4 separate regions of the Homo sapiens genome follow, and regions 1, 3 and 4 are each reported to be linked to region 2. Evidence: microRNA targets listed by miRTarBase, many of them from high-throughput screens and not tested one by one. Region 2 holds a microRNA gene; each other region holds the end of a gene's coding sequence.
The links. Region 2 holds the annotated microRNA hsa-miR-7114-5p (UCUGUGGAGUGGGGUGCCUGU, at 2,664-2,684, opposite strand). A microRNA usually pairs through its seed, bases 2 to 8, with sites in the 3' UTR of a target mRNA and lowers its output. Matches are read on the target gene's strand: a 7mer-m8 pairs with bases 2 to 8, a 7mer-A1 pairs with bases 2 to 7 and ends in A, and an 8mer does both.

Region 1: the mRNA of PPP1R14C is a reported target of hsa-miR-7114-5p. Seed matches in the 3' UTR shown: 7mer-A1 at 3,214-3,220 and 7mer-A1 at 2,542-2,548.
Region 3: the mRNA of ZMIZ1 is a reported target of hsa-miR-7114-5p. Seed matches in the 3' UTR shown: 7mer-A1 at 3,269-3,275 and 7mer-A1 at 349-355.
Region 4: miRTarBase lists ACIN1 as a target of hsa-miR-7114-5p. Seed matches in the 3' UTR shown: 7mer-A1 at 1,285-1,291.

Annotation. Positions count from the first base shown.
Region 1 is chr6:150,247,207-150,252,680 of GRCh38, reverse strand. PPP1R14C (protein phosphatase 1 regulatory inhibitor subunit 14C) reads right to left here. Exons shown (of 4, transcript NM_030949.3): 4 at 2,289-3,935. The coding sequence ends at 3,861. Among named protein-coding and RNA genes, the nearest start is that of PPP1R14C, 110 kb to the right of the region's middle.
Region 2 is chr9:137,447,398-137,452,871 of GRCh38, forward strand. MIR7114 (microRNA 7114) reads right to left here and starts at 2,689; the gene lies at 2,629-2,689. It overlaps NSMF (NMDA receptor synaptonuclear signaling and neuronal migration factor), which reads right to left. Exons shown (of 16, transcript NM_001130969.3): 10 at 5,339-5,422; 11 at 5,156-5,189; 12 at 4,968-5,038; 13 at 2,779-2,858; 14 at 2,526-2,628; 15 at 2,202-2,277; 16 at 173-2,094. The coding sequence ends at 1,997. RefSeq lists enhancers at 1,872-3,071, 4,808-5,474.
Region 3 is chr10:79,311,089-79,316,562 of GRCh38, reverse strand. ZMIZ1 (zinc finger MIZ-type containing 1) reads right to left here. Exons shown (of 25, transcript NM_020338.4): 24 at 5,379-5,474; 25 at 44-3,921. The coding sequence ends at 3,814. Among named protein-coding and RNA genes, the nearest start is that of PPIF, 34 kb to the left of the region's middle. RefSeq lists enhancers at 3,026-3,525, 4,283-4,783.
Region 4 is chr14:23,054,904-23,060,377 of GRCh38, reverse strand. It overlaps ACIN1 (apoptotic chromatin condensation inducer 1), which reads left to right. Exons shown (of 19, transcript NM_001386863.1): 19 at 904-1,814. The coding sequence ends at 1,230. It overlaps CDH24 (cadherin 24), which reads left to right and starts at 2,858. Exons shown (of 13, transcript NM_144985.4): 1 at 2,858-2,975; 2 at 4,521-4,845; 3 at 5,025-5,319. The coding sequence starts at 4,645. LOC105370705 (collagen alpha-2(I) chain-like) reads right to left here and starts at 2,718. Exons shown (of 2, transcript NR_169511.1): 1 at 2,336-2,718; 2 at 1,729-2,093. RefSeq lists silencers at 2,629-2,778, 2,859-2,978.

The sequences.
Region 1 (5,474 bases), not on the chromosome of region 2:
TAAGAGTAAGTACTCACTCAATCCCAGGAGAATGGCACCAAGCCATTCATGAGGGGTCTGCCCCCATGACCCAAACACCTCTCACCTCCAACACTGGAGATCAAATTTCAAAATGGGATTTGGAGAGGACAAATATCCAAACTATGTCAGTGATAAATAAGTAAAAACCTGTTTAATTCCTGTGTTTCAGGAATTGAAAATCACCTTGTCCTGAGCTGCTCTTTCTCAGGAAACTGATGGCTGGATACTCCTTGCTCAGCTGCTAAGCCCAAGTCCAGGAGCTTTATGTTATGGGGAAAAGGCAAGAGGACTCTGGATAAGGAGGGCCAGCATCACAGGGCCTGGCTGCACTGCAGATGGGGAGCAGGGAGTCCCTCAGTTCCCAGGAGTGAGGAAGAGCCCCACAGGTGGCTGGGATCTCCTCCATCCACAAGGCCTCCTCCCCTACCCTGCCAGCTCAGGGACCTGGCTCACTTTAAATGTGGCTTCTGGGGTTCACTCTTGTGAGTGGGACTAAGAGTAATTCCCTAAGAGTGGCAAGAAAGTCTAATGGTTATGGGACTTTGGAGCCAAATAGGTTTGGGTTTGAATCTCAGTGTTGTAGCTGTGTGGACTTAGGTAAGCTGCTAAGCCTGAGTTTATTTTCTTATCTGTAAAATGAGAATGCCACCTGCCTCATAAGGTTAAGGTCAGGATTAAATGAGATAAAGCATGCACTTAGCACAGTGCTTTTATTATGATCGTTATAAATGGAAGCCACTCCATGAAGTTTACATTGAGATTTCCCAATGTTCAAGTGAGCGCGGCACTAGAAGTTGGATAATTTGGAGCCATTGCCCTAGTGAGAAGACTCTGTATGAGAAATAGTGAGTGTGCTAATACCACAGCTGCCACCTGCTGTAATAGCATAAACATGGAGAGCTGAGGTCAGGCTAATGCATCTGGCCATCCAATGGCACAAGAGTGACCCAATGGCCCAGCGATGCGCAAGCTGGAGAGCTTGAAAACAAACACCCCAGCTCTTGTCCTGGAGACGCTGATTTAACTGGTCAGAATTGACTGAGGCCTAGGCTTCCATTGTTTTTAAAGCTTCCCAGTGATTCAAATGTACACTCAGATCTAAGAACCACAACTCTAGCTGGGAAGAAAACAGTGGAGTTTTCTTGAATCTTTTGTCATTTTCATTCAACTGGCAAACACACAATCTCTTTGATGGGCCAAGCCTAGGACCAGATGCTTGGTGAAGTCCAGATTCCCAGCCTCGAGGATCCCAGATTCTAACAGAAGACACCAACAAATGGATAGGCAATAATGATACTGTGGATGCGTCTATGACAGAGTATAGGCTGGAGCTGAGGGGGAACACACCTAGGAGGGGGTCTAACCCAGCTCTCTGGATACAGCCTGTTGGCAGAGGGGGCGTTCTGGGCCAAGGCAACAGATTTTACAAAGCACCAGAGAAGAAAATACATAGAACACGCCAGAAACTCCAAGGAATTTGGCAGAACTGGGCATGAGCACAAGGCCAAAAGATGAGGTGGGAGAGGCAGAGACAACATTTCTCATAAGGCATGCAGAGGGTTCGGGTTTCAAGCAGGGGGTGGAGTCGTCAGACTATTCTAGCAACTGGGTGGAGGATGGATCAGAGGGAGACAAGCCTGGACATGGAGAATCTGTTCCCAAGGTGGTGGCAGCAATCCAGGAAAGTTGGACATGGGATAGGTTTGAGAAGTATTCACAGAGGACAAGCTGGGTGACTGGGAGCATACTGGGGAGTCAAGGAAGAGGCCCAAACTTCTTGCTGAAGCACTCACGGGGATCAGGGCAGGAGGGAAGGTGGGGAGGAAGTGTGTGGTGGGAGCAGAGGCCTTTGGAGGAAAAGTCAATTCTTACTTCATCTGAGACCATCACATGGGCTGGTCAATTAAGCCTAACAGAAATCCTGCCCATTCTGTATTTTTCCGACTTCCATGGTGCAAGGCATTCTAACAAGTGGAATAGTTTACTAATTTGAAATGTTTTTGAGGGTTCTTGTAAGATGGCAAAGAGGAGTTTTAATTAAATGAAAGGAGCATGGCCTAGGACAGTGCCAGGCTGAGCACACAGAGCTCGTCTTCTTTCTCAGCCCAAGAATGTGGCCCAGCTCCTTTGCTTTCACCACCTGATCTGAAGATGCCTGAGGAGAGGGCCAGGATTACATGCCTAGAAATCCTTGAAAATGAAATGAAACGAGGTGAGGTGCTTGGTCCTCACCTCTGCAGAGAAACTGACACAGCAAAACCATCATGTTAACGTGTTGTGCAAGCCACACATGTCAACAGGCTTGTAAGCAGCTCCATTTATTTGAGTAAATATCTTGTAAATAAATCATTGGTAAACAATACAAAATTAAATACATTTTCAAAAGCTTGCCAGTATACGCAAAATTCACAAACATAGTTTTTTTAAAAAATAAAATATGTTCAGAGCACCCTTGATATAAAATGCCTGACCCCCATCCTTGGACAAGGCCACCTGAAGACATCTTATGGTAGGTGGGTTTCTGTGGGAGTCAGCGGGGGCCTCCTGGAGGGAAGGGTTTCTACTCTCACCTATTACCCATCCCACATTCCATCTGAATTTTGATCCTTCTCCAAAGAGCTGGTAACTGAGAGGGCTAGAGCACGCCACCAGGCCTAGCTCCAAGCACGGGGATCAGGGTGCACAATTAGGGCCAGGAGCACCCAGAGTCCTCAACACAAGCCATTGAGAGAAGCCAGAAATGCAATCTCCACACTTCCAAACCAGCAACTCAGCTCCTAGAGCAACTGTCTTGAGAGAATGTGAGGCTTTCTCACCTTGACACTTAACACTCGGTTTACTCCCACTGGTCTGATACTACCCAGGCACAGAAGCTACCAGAACCTATTTCTAAGGAAGAAGACACTCGATCTGCTAACTTTCTTTTGATCTGCTTTCCTGGAGAGAGAATAAACACAGTACTCGGTGGAAAGCAGACAATTCACTGCTACACAGTGCTTCCTTTTTCCAATGCAAAATACCACTGAGATAGTGTGGATATTTCTCTAGAAATCAAGTTAGTTCTTCAAATTAAGGGTTCATACAACTTTAAAAGACTACAAAATGAGACAATAAGCACATGACCTGGCAAAGCATCCCAACCAATGAAATAATAGAAATTCCATAAATTAAGCCCTTGACCAACTTAACATTTCTGTGGTGTAGTGCATTAAAATAACGGATACACTGAATTCTTTCACTTTGGTGCATAAAGTGAACGTTGAAGTCAGCAGCACTCAGTGAAGAATGCCTAGTGGCCTCTTGAAAACACATGTGCTGGGACCTCCAGTTAAAGGACAACCACAAGTTTATTCCATCCATGTGAAATAAAACTCACATCAACATTTTAACTTAGTTGTGTGTAGATATATACAAGTGTGAGAAATTTGACAGCTGAGTCAAATGTACAACTTAAGAAAAAAAATATTACCAAACTACTTGTAAGAAAACTATCTTCCCTGTATCATAAGGTACTGAACATCTGAGTCCTTGCAGGAAACGCAGCCTGGCGTGGCCCTTCCTTGAGTGTCCACCTCCTTTGATAATCCTTGGTTAGGCTGTGGCTAGAGTCATGATATCTTTGCTATTAAAATATTACATTAACAAAAACCTTTAAAACCAAAAAAAGAACGCTCTTGAATAAATGTCTAATAGACCCCCCCACCTTCACACCAAAAAAGAAAAAAAAAAAAACAAAAACGTTGTTCATAAGGACACCTATTCTTTCACAAAAGTCTTCATGAAGTACAAATCCCAGGACTCTTTCTTCGTCTCTGGGAGAGTTTCACCCTGTTCCAGAATCATACACTCTTCTTCTGCGGAGGGCTCAGTTTCCTCATGCCTCTTATCCGAGAAAGCAGCTCTTTGATAAATTCCTAAAAGAGATCAGAAGAAGTTAATATGAGGGTCACTATTAAAATTCTGTGTTTAAAAATCTGCTTAAAGTAATTGATGTCAACTGCAGTTAACCTTAGTTGATGAATTTGGTTGAATGTGTTAACCCCCACTGGTATAATACAGGATTTTTAAAAACAAATCAAGAATACTAAAACTTCACACCACAATGCCTTCTTATTGTTCTACTTTCTTTACGGGGGAAACCAGGCTACTTTCACTACTGACATGACCTACTTGGCCCCTGAGGCATTTGTGTTGAGATCAGAGCTATTTAACATTACCATGCAAATAAATTAACTGGTGATCTCACAGATTCTGAGTGAGCCTGTCCAGGTTGGGGTCTGAGATTCTGCATTTCCAACTAGCTCACAGGTGATGCCAGTGTTAGTCCTTGAACCTCACCAAGAATGGCAAGGCTGGACTAGTGTGCCTCAAATTTGAGTGTGCATCAGAATCACCAGGGGGACTGCTATGGTTTGAATGTGTCCTCCAAATTTCATGTATTGGAAACTTAATCCTCAAATTAATATGTTGATGGCATTTGGAGGTAGGGCCTTTGGGAGGTAGTTCGGATTAGATAAGGTCATCAGAGTAGGGCCCCCAAGATGGGACTGGTGACTTTATAAGAAGAAGAAAGTCCTGAGCTGGCACACACTTGTCCTCTCACCATGTGACAACCTCCACCATGACATGACGCAGCAAAAAGGCCCTCTCCAGATGCCAGTGCCATGCTCTTGGACTTCCCAGCCTCCAGAACTGTGAGCTAAATAAACCTCTATTATAATAAAATACCCAGCCTGTGATATTCTCTTACAGCAACAGAAAATTGACTACTAAGACAGGGACTCATTAAGGACCACACAGTGCTGGGACCCACCACTAGTGTTTGTGATTCAGTAGATCTGGGTGGGGCCCAATAAGGTACATTTCTGACAAGCTCCCAGGTGACACTGATGCTACTTATCACTGGAGAATACTGCACACCACTGGTGTAGATCACACTAAGAGTCTTTGAAGTTTTTTGACAGCAAACTATAGATAAAAAAACCACACCAAAACAAAAACACACTTTATGTTACAATCCGGTACCTACAAACACACATCTGAAATTAAAACTTACAGGATACTTACTACATGCCATGCACTCTGGTATTTCTATTCTACTCTAATTTCATTTACAAAGTAATGCTAGGGAAGACTCACTAAAAGGATTTCATGACCTGTAAATCGATCAGAACCTAAAGACTGAAAAATGATCCAGAATGGTTCCCACTTTACACAATCAGGAATCTCTCATTGTTGCCTCCTGTTTTAAAATGTTTGGCCACCAGATAAGTCATATTTATTAGGTAACAACTACCTGGTCTTCCTGTTTTATATTTGTCAAATACAAAGCTAACAGCCAATCAGACTTTCTGATCAGCAAGCGACAGTCAGTAAGTGACAGAACTGAGCACATCAGGGACTATCTGAGAGCAAAAACACCGAGGAACTTTGCTGTCCATGGAGCCATCTGA
Region 2 (5,474 bases):
ATGCTGTCCTACTTTGAAGAGTGCCACCCTTGAGGCCTGCACGGCAGCGTCAGCAGATTCCAGGCGGTGGCGACTTGTCTCATCAACTTTGCAGAAAGGAGACTCGGATCCCCCATGATTTCACGATATGTCACTTTCAAATAGTAACTGAATAACACAGAGTCTACAGGCATTTGGTATTTACCTAAAACTTTATACACTCAAATTGGCACCAAAACCTGCCCCCTCCCGGGACCCCATCTAGAATGCCCTGGAAGAGCTGGAGGTGGCTGACGGCTGTGTGACCACCCCCAGCACACTGGGCCTCAAGCCTGCCAGGCTGTGCCAGGCTGCGCACCAGTGGCCCCCTGACCCTAGCCCAGCTGATACGTGCTGCTCTGTCCCCCAGCCACGGGGCAGGGAACCAGCTGGCAGCCAGCCTGGCTGTGCCCAGCAGCGGTCTGGGCCCTGAGGACACCTGAGGTTGAGAGAGTGGCCCCCATCTGTGGCCACACTGCTGACTGCACACACAGTGTGGCGTGAGGGACATACAGCCCTCTCCCTGGTGCCCTCAGGCGGCAGGGGGAACGGGCTGTCTCTGCTGTCCCCTCCAGACCCGGCGAGGCCCCCCTCCGAGACTGCAGCCTCCCCCCAGCCCTCCTGCAGCTCCTCTCCGTCCCCTCCTGTGCTGGTCCCCCTGGCTATGCCCTGTGGGGTGGTCTAGTGGCCTAGCTCCAACTCTGTCCAGGCAGGAAGGCCCTGCAGCAGTGACCTCACAGGAGTGGGCCCAGAAGCTGGGCACAGGAAGGCCCCTGGAAAGCACTGAGAGGACAGACCCACGCGGCGGCCGCGGTGGAGGATCAGGTTTAATGGTCACTATGAGGGTATCGTACATCGTTCCAAGCCCGGCCCCCGCCCCAGCCCTCCCTCAGCTGGGAACACAGCCAGGTGCCCTCAGACCCCTGGCTCTGCACAAGGGGGGCCTGCCCCCTCGCCCCAGCTATATACACGACAGCCCATCCTGCTGGCCGTGGACAAAAGCTGGGAGCTCCTGTGCCCAGTCAGGAGCCCCTACAGTCCACCAGCTGCGCGGCCGGGTCCAGGGGCCCACTGTGGTGCCAGCGAGTTTCTCAAAACCCAGGGCCCAGCCCCAGCTGGGCCCCTGCCAAGCCCCAGGCCTGTGTGCTGGGATGGAGCCTCCACACTGAGGCTGGTAAAAGCTGAACTCAACAGCAGCAATGAGAGTGCTGGGTGGGCTTGGGGGGATGGGGAGCAGGCCCCACCCAGAGCCTCCTCTGAAGGAGGGGACGCTGCGCCCTTCCTTCCTGCTGCCCAGACTGCCCCTACCGGGTCCGGCGCCGGCTGAGGTCTAAGTAAGCAGGGATGGGGGGTGGCAAGAGGAGTGTAAGTGAAAGCACAGACAGTCGGAGACTCGGCCAGTGTAGACAGACCCAGAGACTCGGCCAGTGTAGACAGAGCCAGGCTGGGCAGCCCGGCGACGCTGGCCCCACGCACACGGGCCACCCTGGTGCTGGTGATCGATACGGCAGGGAGGGGGTGGGCAGGGAGGGTCCTGAACACATGTGGGCTGCTGGGCTGCTGGGCCGGGGTGCCTACACTGTAACTAGCAGCATAGTGCTTAACTAGTTAACAAGAAATGCTGCTTCCCTTTGAATTGTTTCGGGGGTGTAGAAATTGCACTTATTTCTATGAACCCCATGGAGGGATGCCCACAGCTGAGCCTCCAGGCGAGGCATGGCAGGTCAGTGCCTGGCCGCTGAGCATCCACGGGCCACAGGGCGGGATCCTCCCGGCCCCCAGGGACTGCAGCCTCTGCGGCCACGGGTGCAGCGAGGACCGGAACCCACAGGGGGAACCTGAGCAACGTCTGAGGTGCCCTGAAGTGGCTCCAGGCGAGACCGGAGCCACACAGTCCCGGGGAGCACGAGGCGGCCCAGCCCCAGGTCCCGGTGCAGAGGGAGTGGCCTGATGGTGACTGGGCGGAGGCCTCTGCCCCTCACAGGACGTCGTCAAAGTCCAGCAGCTTCGAGTGCTGGCGGCTCTTCCACAGGCGATACAACCGGAAGTCAAAGTACGTCTCGATCATCTGCTTCCCTGGGCGGAGCGGGGGCAGGAGGCTCAGGCCTGGCCGGCCCTGGGGATCCCACCCCACCGTGGCCCCGCAGTGGCTGCAGAGCTTCGGCCCAGCCTGGGTAACTCACCTTGGGCTGAGAGCTCCAGGGGTGACTCGAAGGTGACCCTATAAGGAGTCATGAGGGTCCTGAGGTTCTGGAACAGCTGGAGGAAGCGGGGTGCCATGAGTCCGAGGCAGAGAGATGGGGAAGGAGGAGCGGGGAGGAGATGGGGAGCAGGGCCCACCCTCTTTTTTCAGACCCCCCAAACCTGGCTGGGCTCAGGCATAAAGGATTTCTAGGGGAATGCCCGGGGGAAGGAAAAAAAATGCCAGGAAACATGGAAGGCTCTGCCCTGTCTGTCCACGTCGGGGGTTTCCAGAGGTCTGGGGTGGGGCTTGGGGGTCACTGTACCTTCTCTCCATTGGGGTTCCCCAGAATGTAGCAGCCCATGATGTGGATGACGTTCGGCTCTGGGTTCACTTTGCTCATCAGGCGGCTCAGCCGCTTCCAGAAGCTGGTGGAGAGGGGTGGGTCACCCAGTGGCAGGGGACAGGCACCCCACTCCACAGAGCGGACCGTGGAGGAGGGGCTGTGGGGGAGGGACATGCCAGGGCCTGGACTCTGCCTCCAGCCCTCCCCGCGCCCAGGGCACCCGGCTTCTCACTGAATCATGTCCTCTTCCTTCTCCACTTTGGCAAAGGTGGCCACCTTGTTCTTGAGGAGATAGAGGTGTCCAGGACCTCCCTGTAAGAAGCTGTGGTCAGGCATCTGCTCCTCCTTCCTCCCCCTCTCCGACACACATGCACCCACGCACATGCGTGGGAGGTAGTTTTGGTCTTCATCCCCCGGCCACGCTTCTTCCCCTTGATCTCCCCCACCACACGTCTTTCCCTTGATCTCCCCCACCACACGCCTCTTCCCTTTGATCTCCCCCCCACGCCTCTTCCCCTTGATCTCCCCCACCACATGCCTCTTCCCTTTGATCTCCCCCACCACACGCCTCTTCCCTTTGATCTCCCCCACCACACACCTCTTCCCTTTGATCTCCCCCACCACACGCCTCTTCCCCTTGATCTCCCCCACCACACGCCTCTTCCCTTTGATCTCCCCCACCACACGCCTCTTCCCTTTGATCTCCCCCACCACACGCCTCTTCCCTTTGATTTCCCCCACCACACGCCTCTTCCCCTTGATCTTCCCCCGCCTCTTCCTCTTGATCTCCCCCCCTCGCCTCTTCCTCTTAATTCCCCCCAATGCCTCTTCCCCTTGATCTCCCCCACCACACGCTCTTCTCCTTGATCTCCCCCCAATGCCTCTTCCCCTTGACCTGCCCGCCACGCCTCTTCCTTTTGATCTCCCCCCCACACCTCTTCCCCTTGATCTCCCCCCCACGCCTCTTCCCCTTGATCTCCCCCTCCACACGCCTCTTCCCCTTGATCTTCCCCTGCCCCTCGTCTCTTCCCCTTGATCTCCCCTGCCACGTCTCTTCCCCTTGATCTCCCCCACCACGTCTCTTCCCCTTGATCTCCCCTCCACGTCTCTTCCCCTTGATCTCCCCCTCCACACGCCTCTTCCCCTTGATCTTCCCCTGCCACACGTCTCTTCCCCTTGATCTCCCGCGCCACACGCCTCTTCCCCTTGTTCTGCCCTCCACGCCTCTTCCCCTTGGTCTTCCCCACCACACGCCTCTTCCCCTTGGTCTCCCCCGCCACGTCTCTTCCCCTTGGTCTTCCTTGGCCACACGCCTCTTCCCCTTGATCTCCCCACCATGCCTCTTCCCCTTGATCTCCCCCTCCACACGCCTCTTCCCCTTGATCTTCCCCTGCCCCTCGTCTCTTCCCCTTGATCTCCCCCGCCACGTCTCTTCCCCTTGATCTCCCCCGCCACGTCTCTTCCCCTTGATCTCCCGCGCCACACGCCTCTTCCCCTTGTTCTGCCCTCCACGCCTCTTCCCCTTGGTCTTCCCCACCACACGCCTCTTCCCCTTGGTCTCCCCCGCCACGTCTCTTCCCCTTGGTCTTCCTTGGCCACACGCCTCTTCCCCTTGATCTCCCCACCATGCCTCTTCCCCTTGATCTCCCCCTCCACACGCCTCTTCCCCTTGATCTTCCCCTGCCCCTCGTCTCTTCCCCTTGATCTCCCCCGCCACGTCTCTTCCCCTTGATCTCCCCCGCCACGTCTCTTCCCCTTGATCTCCCCCGCCACACGCCTCTTCCCCTTGGTCTTCCCCCGCCACGTCTCTTCTCCTTGATCTACCCCCCAAACACCTCTTCCCCTTGGTCTCCCCCAGCCACACGCCCCTTCCCCTTCATTTCCCCCCCGCCACACGCCTCTTCTCCTTGATCTTTCCCCCTCAATGTCTACACCTCTTCTCCTTGGTCTTCCCCAACCCCAGCCTCTTCCCCTTGGTCTCCCCCAGCCACACCTCTTCCCCTTGGTCTCCCCCAGCCACACGCCTCTTCCCCTTCGTTTCCCCCCGCCACACGCCTCTTCTCCTTGATCTTTCCCCCTCAACATCTACGCCTCTTCTCCTTGGTCTTCCCCAACCCCAGCCTCTTCCCCTTGGTCTCCCCCAGCCACACCTCTTCCCCTTGGTCTCCCCCTCAAACACCTCTTCCCCTTGGTCTTCCCACCCCAGCCTCTTCCCCTTGGTCTCCCCCAGCCACACCTCTTCCCCTTGGTCTCCACCCCCACGCCTCTTCCCCTTGGTCTCCCCCACAAACACCTCTTCCCCTTGGTCTCCCCACCCCAACCTCTTCCCCTTGGTCTCCCCCAACTTGACTTCTTCCCCTTGGTCTTCCCCTGCCCCACCACGATTCTTCTCCTGGTCAGGAGACGAGCACTGAGCCCCACCTGGCAGAAAATCAGCATTTTCCAGATCTTGGCTCCCTTGTGGTAGACGTTCAGCTTCCTCTCTATCTCCTCTGTGGGAGAGCGGGTGTGAGTGCTGCGGCCCCCACCCCAGCCCCAGGGGCACCCCCACCTGTGTCTGCCCCTCCCAGGCCTGGAACCAGCAGAGAGAAGGCCAATGAGGCACATACCAAGGATGTCCTCGAAGGTTGCGTGCTCATGGTCCTGGGGACAGACACAGGCCACAAGGCCACATCAAGGCTGCGTCAGAGCCAGCAGCGCCACAGCACCCTGGGGACCTGGGGTGCCGGCGCTGGCCCAGGGTGGGGCCGCAAGAGGGCATCTGTTGGGGGCAGGCCCGGGGCGGGACTCACGTAGAGGATGGGGATGATGGAGGGGTCATCCCGGCGGATGATAGTGGGGATGTACTCAGCCTTGGGCACCTTGGAGGAAATGAGCTGCGGAGACAAAGAGCTGCTCAGGGGCCCCAGGCCCATCCAAAAGCCAAGG
Region 3 (5,474 bases), not on the chromosome of region 2:
AAACCACTCCTTAACATCCACAAAATAGCTAATTCGCCAAACCTTTGTTTTTGTCAATTTATTTAGAAAAAAATTAACATGGGCAAATGAGATACCTCAGTGTTACAACAGAGTATAGAAATGTCTAGCAATAGTCAAATAATTTGATCTTTAAATACAAAATAACCACATGAACACCTAATATACAGGTTTCATCTGAATACATATTTATTAGATAAATATTAGAGGTTGTCACATCATCTAACTACATACAGCTTTGCAAGACTAGAAATCACAATTAGTTTTTTGACCAGTTTAAAGTATGAAATGATTGCATTGTACATACGATGTACAAAGACGATGATGGTTTCTGTGGGAGTTACTTCAGGCTGCACTGGTGGGTGTGTTTATGTGTGTACGTGTGAATCACCTGTGATCATGATATCAAAAATTATACAAAGTATGAATTTGGTTACAATTTTCTTCTGAAATCCCCGTTTCTTTTCATTATTTCCATAGCACCCTAAAAATACACAGGTGGCAGGACTAGTACACTGAAGCTAAATAGTACATGTAGGTAAAATAAAAACAGAACAAAAACCCCTTTCCACTCAGGGTCAGAGTATATTACATGAGCGAGAGAGACAGACGTGGAGAACTCACAAATGCTATAACCAACAGGATCTAGTTTTTCCACGTGATGGAGTTCCAAGCTTTTTTTTTTGTTTTGTTTTGTTTCGCAAAATAAAAACAATACACATTCCAAGAGAAATGAATGCATCTGTTGACACGTCTCTATTTCTCATTTACATATGTACACACGTCCCTTGAGTCGCTGCTGTTGACACGGCCCTGTGTGGACGGGTCAGGCCCGAGGCCCGTCGGGAGCAGACCTGTAGCTCTCTGGGGGATCAGGGCTTCCATTAGGGAGAAAGTATTAGCAGTTTCTTAAAAAATAAAATGGCTACACGGAACATGATACATGGATAAAGCTTCAAACCAAGAAGATGGGGGTGATTGCCTGTACTTGGCCCTTCCCGCCTGCCTGCTGGCTCCCTGTCCATCTTGCGGAGTGGCGGCAGAAACATGCCTGTGGGCCGGGTGGATGCTTGGCATGGAAAAGTGGCTTGCAGAGGCCTCGTTTTTGCTGAGGTTACTTATGGCTCCAAGTAGTCGTCCGAAAGGATCAGGGAAGGATCTCTCCAGAGTTCAGGACCATCTCTGTTTATGGGCGTTGTCTACCTGCACCTGTCACAACCTGGGGCTTGCTCCCGCCCCGGATGCCTCTGCACCTCCCTCACACCCTGGCCTGGCTCCCAGAGCACTCCGGAAGAGCTTGTCTCCAGACTGCAGGCTGTAGGCACCACGCACGGTTCAGAGCCAGCCGGAAGGGAAGCTCTGGGCCGAGCTTGCTGGTGGAGGCTTGCTGGAGAGGGGACCCAGGAAACCCGCCTCAGGTGCTGAGCCCAGAGATGGTTGCAGGAGGTGCCCGGGGCCTGGGCTGCAGGGAGCATCTCGACTCTCCGCACTGGAAAGCCGTGGATCCACCTGTGAGCAGAGTGTGGACACACCCTGATAAGAACCAGAATGAATCCCAGGCCTTTCTGGGGCAAAGTATCAACGCAAGAAGCAAGAACTCCTAAGGAAGGCATCTGTAAGTCTGTCTGGAGCTTAATTCCCAGATGGTCTGACACAGGGCGTGGCCACTTGCCAGGCCACAGACACTGGGCAAGGGTGGCCACATGCTACCTGGCGTTGGCTTGTCCCTGCCAGCTGACTGAGGGATGGCTCTAAATAGCGGGCTGCCCGGTCTTCCAACTCCCAGCACAGCCGCCCATTCTGTTCACCCCTTCAACTGTACAAATAGCCCTGGTTGCTTTTTTTGTTTTTGTTTAAAAAAAAAGAAGACTCGGTCTTTGTCATTGAGTCCAGGTATTTTAAAAACACCAGCAAAGGCTATAACCAGGTCATGAAAATGTTGAATATTATCAAAGACGATACTAAAATATTCACAAAGATATTTACAAAAGCGATTCTTAAAATAATTGATTTGCATACTGAACAACACGCTATTTGAAAAAACCTCGACAACGGGACAAAGGAAGAAAAGGGGCCGGGGCAATGGCAGCTTTCCTACAGAAAACCTTGTGCCGTCTGGGACAGTGACTGGAAGTCAACAGCTGGGGCCACCTTTCCGGTAAAACCCACAGAGGAGAGCTGGGGACCACCCACAGCGGACGGGAGAGCAGGAAAGGGCCCCAGGCAGCAGCCGGGAAGGGCGCAAAGAATTTACAGATGGGACCCCAGTGACGGGACAACCTGGCATCACCCTAGGCCATGTGGCTCACGGGGCACAGACCAGCCTGAAACAAAGTGAACACAGGACAGGCTCCCCAGGAGGCCCTGGAGAGTGGTAAGCCAGATGGAGCAAAGCGGTGGAGGGAAGGCCAGAGGCTGCTTTTGCTTGAGTGAGCAGGAGTTTGGGTGAGATTGTGATGGTGGAGGAGTGCAGGCAGGGTAGGCTGGCAGCCAAGGGCAGTGTCTGGGGCAGGCCCAGAAACACGCCCCCCTCCCCCCCATGCCTGCAGGTACATACTGGTGCACATGTCCATGGCCTGGGCTGCAGCCGGGGGCAGCTTGGAGCACAGGGACAGAGGGAGGGGCTGGACAGACACCATTGCCCTGGGCTCTGGTTTCTGCACCTCCCCGGCCTTTCCACGCACTGCCCTTGCCATCTGATTGGACAAAGAGAACTAGGACAGAGGGAAGTGGGTGTCCCACGGAAGTCTTGGAGAGGTGGCAGGAGAGGGACTAGGAGAAAAACAGAACAGACGGAGAGAAATGGTTTGCTTGCTGTCCAAGAGCAACGTTCCTTTTCTCCAGGTGACTTCATAGCTTTAAATTGTTGCTGTTTAAAAAGAGAGTGGCTTGGAGCAAAGTTAGAAGTTGCCGCTCCTGTTTGCTTCTGACAGGTTATATGCCCGCGCCCCCCAACCAAGGGCACAATCACTTTGGTTGGGTGTACACCTGCTCTCTCTGTTCCCCAAGCCTGGGCCCTGTCTGAGCTTGGAGGTGGAGCCTCAGGGACGTCCTGGCTCAGAAGATGTCCTGGCCCTCTTCCCCACCAGTCCCCAAGCAGGAATGGCAGACCCCCTCTCAAACACAGACTCTTGTCCTTTTTCTCTGCTTTCTGAGTGTGTTTATGGGGTATCTTGGCTTATAGGTCAGGGGTCAAACCGATGACCCCTGGCCCCCGAGAGACGTTGTCTTTCCCAGAGGTTTGTGCTTTTCTGTGGTGGGTGGTGGTGGGTGGGCTGGTCTCACTGCCACCAACTGCCAGTGCTCCTCCAAGGCTCGGGGCCCATGCTGGGGCCCGGGGGCCTTCTCAGGCTCCACAGTCACTGGAGGGAGGCTCTGGACCAGGAAGCAGGGAGGCAGGGTTACAGTCTAGAAGATGGAAGAACCTTGGGGACACTGGAAGGTCATCTGGAATCGGCACACGCGGAGGGACCGGGAAGCCGCATCAGCGTGTGCCCTCTTACCGGGCTGGTTCCTCTCGGGAGGGTGGTCTTCAGGCCTGCGCTGGGCATGGGCCCAAGCCAAGGGTGTGGAGGTGGGACGTGGGCTCCAGACCCACACAGCCTTCCTGGTGCACTGGTGCACCCTCCCTACCCCTCTGTTCTGAGAGGGCTGCAGCGGGGGAGGGCTCCCCGCCCCACAGCCCGTGGCTCTGGTGCGGGGCGGTCTGAGGGCACAGGCTCCCAGGTGGAAAAGTGTGTTGGGTAGGTGGGGTAGGATGCAGAGTGTGGAGGGATGGCCCCGACCGGGTGGCCCTCAGTTGTTCTCAAATAGAGACAGGAGGTCATCGTTACTATTGCTCGGCAGGTCGGGGGGGTCCAGATAAGACAGGAGCTCGTCAGGATTTGTGAGTTCGGGAAGGAGCTGGAAAAGAAGGAGTAATGAAGTTCAGATGAGGTGTGCCTGAGAGGCAGGCCCCGGGTGAGGAATGCAGGGGCGCCCTGGCCCGTCCCCCTCCACCTGCCTCTCAGGACCCTAGCCAAAAAAAGGGGTAGAGAACAGCCTTGGGCTTGGGCCTGCCAGGTATCCCCACACATACCCCGGCCACTGCACCGAGTGTGGGGCACCCCCATGCTCATTTCAAGCCTCAGGATTGGGACCCGCAGCCCACCAGCTGAGGCCTGAGCAGGGCTGACCCTTTTCAGGCATGGACTTCAGCCCTAACCTGGGAAGGCCCCATGGCAGGTCACTTGGGCCTCCCAGCTGAAATCACATGCTTCACGTGTAAGCACAAGGAGGTGGGCTGGTGGGAAGGCGGGAAGGCGAGTGGTTCCTGCACCGCCCCCAACCCCCCAACATCCCTCTTCTCAAGGGCTCGCCACTCCTTGGTGAGCCTGTGGCTGGCTGGCAGCCATCCTTCCCTGTGGCCCCGGAGGGGATGCAGACTGTCTCTACCCTCTACTGAGATATCCTTGGAGTCTGTCACATGGGGAGCCTCATGCATCTAAAAGCAGCCCCACTGGCCTGGTTTGAGGGGGAACACTGGGCAAGGACCTGAGATGGCTGCACAGTGAGTGAGTCCTAGCTAGCACAGAGCTCCTCTGATGCTGCAGGGCAGAGGCTGACAGAGCAGGGCTGGGGGTGAAGAACAGGAGGGGCCGAGGACAAGCCTCCTCCCGGAGTCTGGCACCAGCTCTGTGTAGGCATGGGCGGGGCCGGTGCTCAGTCCCATCCCGCCAGCCCCATCCAGCAGCCCAGCCCCATCATCCAGGGTGACCCCCACCATCTTCCAGACCTCAGGGTAGGAGCCCTGGCACCTCTGCTGCCCATGATGGCCTGCTGCCCCTGGCTGTGACCCAAGGCTGCCCCCTCTGCCCCCACCTTCTGTCACCCACATGGGGGCCTCTTGGAGTGAGCGATGGAGCAAGCAGAAGCAGGGCATGGACAACACGCGGACAAGAAAACTGGAGACAGACACACACCAGCGAGGCAGACAGACGGCCTCTCCCTCCAGCCCTCCCTGCCCGGGCCAGAGAGGCAGACACAGAAACCGCAAGCTCACCATCGGGGGAGGGCAGGGACCCTCCTGTGCTGCGCAAGGGACCCCGCAGGGCTTGGGTCAGAAGGTGGGTCAGGGCTGGGGTTCAGGGCTATGGCCAAAGGGACTGGGGGGACAGGAGCCAGCAGGGTGGGGACCCTCAGTGGTGACACTTCCCCATCATGGGGCTTCCTGGTCTGGAGCCAGGTCTGGGTGAAGCCCTCCCACCGCCCACCCACCTCCTCCCTTCGGGGCCTCGAGCCCTCACACCCACCCCTTCTCTCGGGCAGGTCCCGGCGCCAGGCCTAGCCCCAGGCCAAGGCGAGTGGCGACCCCAACTTACATCCAGCGAAGGCTCCGGCATGTCGGACGCTCCCTGCGCTCCGGCCTGACCCTCTAAGGCTGAGGAGGGGTTAAAGGTCAGGTCGCTGTGTGGATG
Region 4 (5,474 bases), not on the chromosome of region 2:
AAAGAGATTTGTTCACATCTACGCTGACGGTAGGGAGCTAGGGAAATACCAAGGGCCAGGCATGGATGGTGCCAGTACCTGTCAATGTGTGTAAAAGTTGAAACTTGGTGGCTAGGCATGGTGGCTCATGCCTGTAATCCCAGCACTTTGGGAGGCTGAGGTGGGCGGATCATCTAAGCCTCCATCTAAGCCAGGAGTTTGATACCATCCTGGCCAACATGGTGAAACCCCATCTCTACTAAAAATACAAAACTTAGTGGGGCATGGTGGCAGACACCTGTAATCCCAGCTACTAGGGAGGCTGAGGCAGGAGAATCACTTGAACCTGCGAGTCGGAGACCACAGTGAGCCAAGATAGCACCACTGCACTCCAGCCTGGGCGACAGAGTGAGACTGTCTCAAAAAAAAAAAAAAAAAAAAACTGGCGGGGCGCGGTGGCTCACGCCTGTAATCCCAGCACTTTGGGAGCCTGAGGCGGGCGGATCACGAGGTCAGGAGATCAAGACCATCCTGGCTAACAACGGTGAAGCCCCGTCTCTACTGAAAATACAAAAAAATTAGCCGGGCGTGGTCGCGGGCGCCTGTGGTCCCAGCTGCTCAGCAGGCTGAGGCAGGAGAATGGTGTGAACCCGGGAGGTGGAGCTTGCAGTGAGCCGAGATCGTGCCACTGCACTCCCAGCCTGGGCGACGGAGCGAGACTCCGTCTCAGAAAAAAAAAAAAAAAGGCTGAAACTAGGAGGGAGAGAGGTGCTCTAAGAAAGACAGGATGCAGTTGTTGAGCCCCCAACCCCTTCCTGTTTAACTGAAAAGCTGACCCTGAGCTAGGAGGCAGGGTCCAGGCACAAATGGAGGCTGTGACCAGGACTGAGCTGCCTATTCTCTGCCTTTCCTACCTGGCTACAGATCGTTCAGAAAGAGGCAGAGCGGGCCGAACGGGCCAAGGAGCGGGAGAAGCGGCGAAAGGAGCAAGAAGAAGAAGAGCAAAAGGAGCGGGAGAAGGAAGCCGAGCGGGAACGGAACCGACAGCTGGAGCGAGAGAAACGTCGGGAGCACAGTCGGGAGAGGGACAGGGAGAGAGAGAGAGAAAGGGAGCGGGACAGGGGGGACCGAGATCGGGATAGGGAAAGGGACCGAGAACGAGGCAGGGAAAGGGATCGCAGGGACACCAAGCGCCACAGCAGAAGCCGGAGTCGGAGCACACCTGTGCGGGACCGGGGTGGGCGCCGCTAGCTGGGAAAACACTAGAGCTGCAGGTACCAGCCACTCGGCCCCAGGGGGTTATGGCCACAGAGGGATAGGCACAGTCTCCACCACCCTGGAGCCAAGGGTCTTTCACATCACCTATCCCTACATACATACCAAATGGAAAAGTGGCCATCCTTTTCCCCCCAAACACACCCCCTTAACCTATCTCTTGGGACTTAGCCCGACCCTCCCTCTCATTTCCCATTAAGTCTGAGAGGCAAGAGCTAGGTTAGGCAAGGAGGTGGTTGGCCAGAGATGGGGAACAGCCAGGTGCCCCAGTCCTCTGATTTTTCCTCCATCCTGCTTACCACCTCCCTGGGTACTTACAGCCTTCTCTTGGGAACAGCCGGGGCCAGGACTGGGTCACCTATGAGCTGAATCAGCATCTCCTCCTGAGTCCCAGGGCCCCTGCAGTTCCCAGTCTCTTCTGTCCTGCAGCCCTTGCCTCTTTCCCACAGGTTCCACTTTATATCCACCTTTTCCTTTTGTTCAATTTTTATTTTTATTTTTTTTATTATTAAATGATGTGGTCTATGGAAAAAAAAATAAAAATCTGACTTAGTTTTAAACTGTGTGAGTGGCTTTCTTTGGGCAGGTTAAGAAGCCACTGTGGATATCTGAGCGTGGACATCTGAGGATATCTGGAGTAGGAGTTGCTCTCATTCCATGTGTTCCTTTAGGCTGACTGCTTCCTGCTTATTGAACTTCCCACGTCTTTTATCCCCTGCCTTGGCCCTGACCAACCCAAAGCTGTGGACCTTCCTCATTCGGGAAGGCATGGAGCAACCTGTGTCCGTGGCGGCACCCCAGCAGGGCTAGGAGGGTGGGTCCTCTTCTGGTTCCTGGTCCTGTGCACGGTTAAATTAGGGGTTTGGTCACCTGCCTGCCACCTTGGTGCCTCCCACAACTACCACCAGGGGGCGGCAGCTCCTCGCTCTGTTGGCCCCTGTAACCGAGCTTCCCAAGAAGGGTTCCACTGCCCGCCTCCGACCTCCCGCCGATGTCGTGCCTCTGTTCCCGACCCGCTCCCTGGGCCCGGGCCTCGGACTCTCTGGACCCTTCTGCCGTCCTTAAGTGTCCCCCAGCTGACCTGCTACCGTGCTTTGCATGGGCTCTCAAAACGCCGCCGCCTTGCAGCTGGGATTCCATCCACACCAGTCCCAAAAGCCAGCCGGGAACCGGGAGCCCGGAGCCGGGTCTCTCCGCAGTGGGCTCCGAATTCCCCACCTCACCGCGCGCTCGCCCGTTTTCCGCTGCGGGCGGGGACTGGCAGCTTCGCGCTCCCGGGTGCACCCGCCCCGCCAGCTCTTCGGAAATGGCCTGGCGCCGTGGCCTGGACGTCCTCCCGCCCGAGTGCCCTGCCGGGCGCTGCGGGCCCGGTCCGGGAGGGGCGCCGCATCTGTATGCGCCCCGCAGCCCAGGAGCGCCGAGGGGGCGGACGCGCGGCGCCGCCTCCGCCCCCGCCCCCGCCGCGCGGGCCCGGCTGGCCGGGGAGGGTCGGAGGCTGGGCTCTCCTCTCCCGCGCGGCGCGGAGCCGCCTCGCTCCTCCGCAGGCGGAGTCTTCTTCCCCCGCCCCCTCCGTCTCGCTCCCTTGTTCTCGCCGGGGCCGCTCAGACCTGCAGCGGAGCCGCGGCGCCCGCTCCAATCGGCTCGGGGCTGTGCCCCCGGGACCCGGCGACGGGGGCGGGCGGGGGCGCTTCCCGCCGGCCTGGGCCCCTCGGCAGTGCCAGGTAAGGGCGCCTGCCCCGGAGCAGGGGTCGGGAATCCGCGGAGGGGTAGGAGGGGGCCCGCAGCCTGCGGGGGTCTTCGGAGGGGTGCGCTCCGTGGCTGGGAGCCCGCTGCCGGCTCCCTTCTCCCGCGCTCTGCCTCTTTCCCTTCTCCCCTCGCACCTCTCTCCCTCTTTCTTCTCTCGATTTCTCTTCACCCTTCCTTCTCTGCCTGTTTGCCTTCCTTATCCCTTCCCTCTGTCTCCCCAACCCTTCCCTCTCCCTCTTGTCCTTTTTCCATCTCCTCTCCCTCTTTGCCTTTTTCTTTCTCTACCTTTCTCCCCTTTCCTGCCTTTCTCTTTTCTCTTTCTTGCTCTCCTTTCCCTCCCTCTCCTCTCCCCTTCCTGCTATCCTGTTTCCCACTCCTCTATCCCCTTCCTTCTCGCCTCCTCATCCCGCCTTCTCTCTGGTCCCCAGCCTTCCTCCGGTTTCCCCCTTCCCTCGGGAGCAAAGGGACTGTCAGGTGTGTGTCTGCTCTGAGGGAGGAGGGGCAGAAGCCACAGCTACCTGAGGGGTCCTCCCCCCCGCCCCTAGGAGAAAGGAGAGCAGTGGGAAGGGTCTCCTCTCTAGCTCCCTTCCCGTGGCCCCTCCCTGCCTCCACCCCTCCTGTCTGCTCCTTCTCCCAGAATTAAGTTCCCGAGGCCTGGCTTGACACCCCCGAAGCTGAGGTCTGCCCCTGCCTGCCCGGAACTGCCCCCGGTGACCCGTTTCCAAGCCTGGCCCCTAGGACTCCTCTCTGCCTTCAGACACCCAGGCTGCTGCCCTGGTCTCTCTCATTCTGTCTCTTGCCACTGTTCTGTTTCTGTCTCTCATCCAGTCATTTCTCTGCCGGACAGTCCCTGAGTCAGTCTAGCCGTCAGTCATTATCTGTCTCTAGCCTCTGGGTGGACCTCTCTCCCCGGTCACCTCCCCCTGTCCCCCACCCTGTATCCTCTTCCTTCAGCTCTGGCTCCCAACTCCTGTCTCACGAGCCCAGTCCCCCTTCAAGGACTGCACTGGCAGCGTGGGCTGGAGACAGGGCCTGGAGAGTGGGGCTCCCCCTTGTGGGGAGGGACTTTCACAGACTCTCAGCCCTGCCTGAGGCTGCACTCCTTGTCATCTCATGCTGACCCTAGACACCTTAAGGCCACACCTCCATGAATCCCAACTCCGTAATTTTAAGCCCTTTCTCTGGTAGCCCCGCCTCCTCCAATACCTGGCTACGTGCCCAACCTGGGAGGACAGAGACCAGATTTGGGATTCCAAGCCCTCCCAGCATCCCCTCTCCTGTGTTCCTCCCCAGTTCTCTACTCAGAGTTGACTGACCAGAGATTTATCAGCTTGGAGGGCTGGAGGTGAATACATGCAGAGCCTGGGTGGAGGAAGGATCAGCCTCTCTGCTCTCTGTCTTAGTCTGAGTTCTGGGCAGTGGAGTGTCTGGTTCCTTGGAGGTCTGGTCTTCAGCATCTAATTTTGCGGGGGAGGAGGGCTAGGGGTTTCCTTGAGCCTGAGCAGCTGCTTGTCCTGCAGGTGTGGATCCATGGGGTAGCCTCAACGCATCTGCCCCTCCACCCCAGCCAGCTCATGGGCCACGTGGCCTGGCCCAGCCTCAGCACCCAGGGCCAGTGAACAGAGCCCTGGCTGGAGTCCAAACATGTGGGGCCTGGTGAGGCTCCTGCTGGCCTGGCTGGGTGGCTGGGGCTGCATGGGGCGTCTGGCAGCCCCAGCCCGGGCCTGGGCAGGGTCCCGGGAACACCCAGGGCCTGCTCTGCTGCGGACTCGAAGGAGCTGGGTCTGGAACCAGTTCTTTGTCATTGAGGAATATGCTGGTCCAGAGCCTGTTCTCATTGGCAAGGTAAGGATGACCCCTCCCATGTCTACTCTGACACCAAGCCCTCAGGCCCTGCCCTGCAACTTCATCACTTCTGCAATGACCTTGGTCCCTCAGGACTCCCAACGCTCTACCCAAACCTAGACTCTTTAACCCTGTCTCTGTACTTGGAGCCCTCTGCCATCTTTTCGTGACCCCTGCAGCTGCACTCGGATGTTGACCGGGGAGAGGGCCGCACCAAGTACCTGTTGACCGGGGAGGGGGCAGGCACCGTATTTGTGATTGATGAGGCCACAGGCAATATTCATGTTACCAAGAGCCTTGACCGGGAGGAAAAGGCGCAATATGTGCTACTGGCCCAAGCCGTGGACCGAGCCTCCAACCGGCCCCTGGAGCCCCCATCAGAGTTCATCATCAAAGTGCAAGACATCAACGACAATCCACCCATTTTTCCCCTTGGGCCCTACCATGCCACCGTGCCCGAGATGTCCAATGTCGGTGAGCACCCCAGCTCTGAATGCCCCAGTTCCCGTCTTCTGGAGCTCTCTCACCTCTCCTTCCCTTCTTGTTGTCTGCCCCAGAACCTGCCCCCTTCAATTCAGCCTCCCTCGTATCTGCATCCCCCCCCATCGGTTGTTCTTCCCCATCCTTCC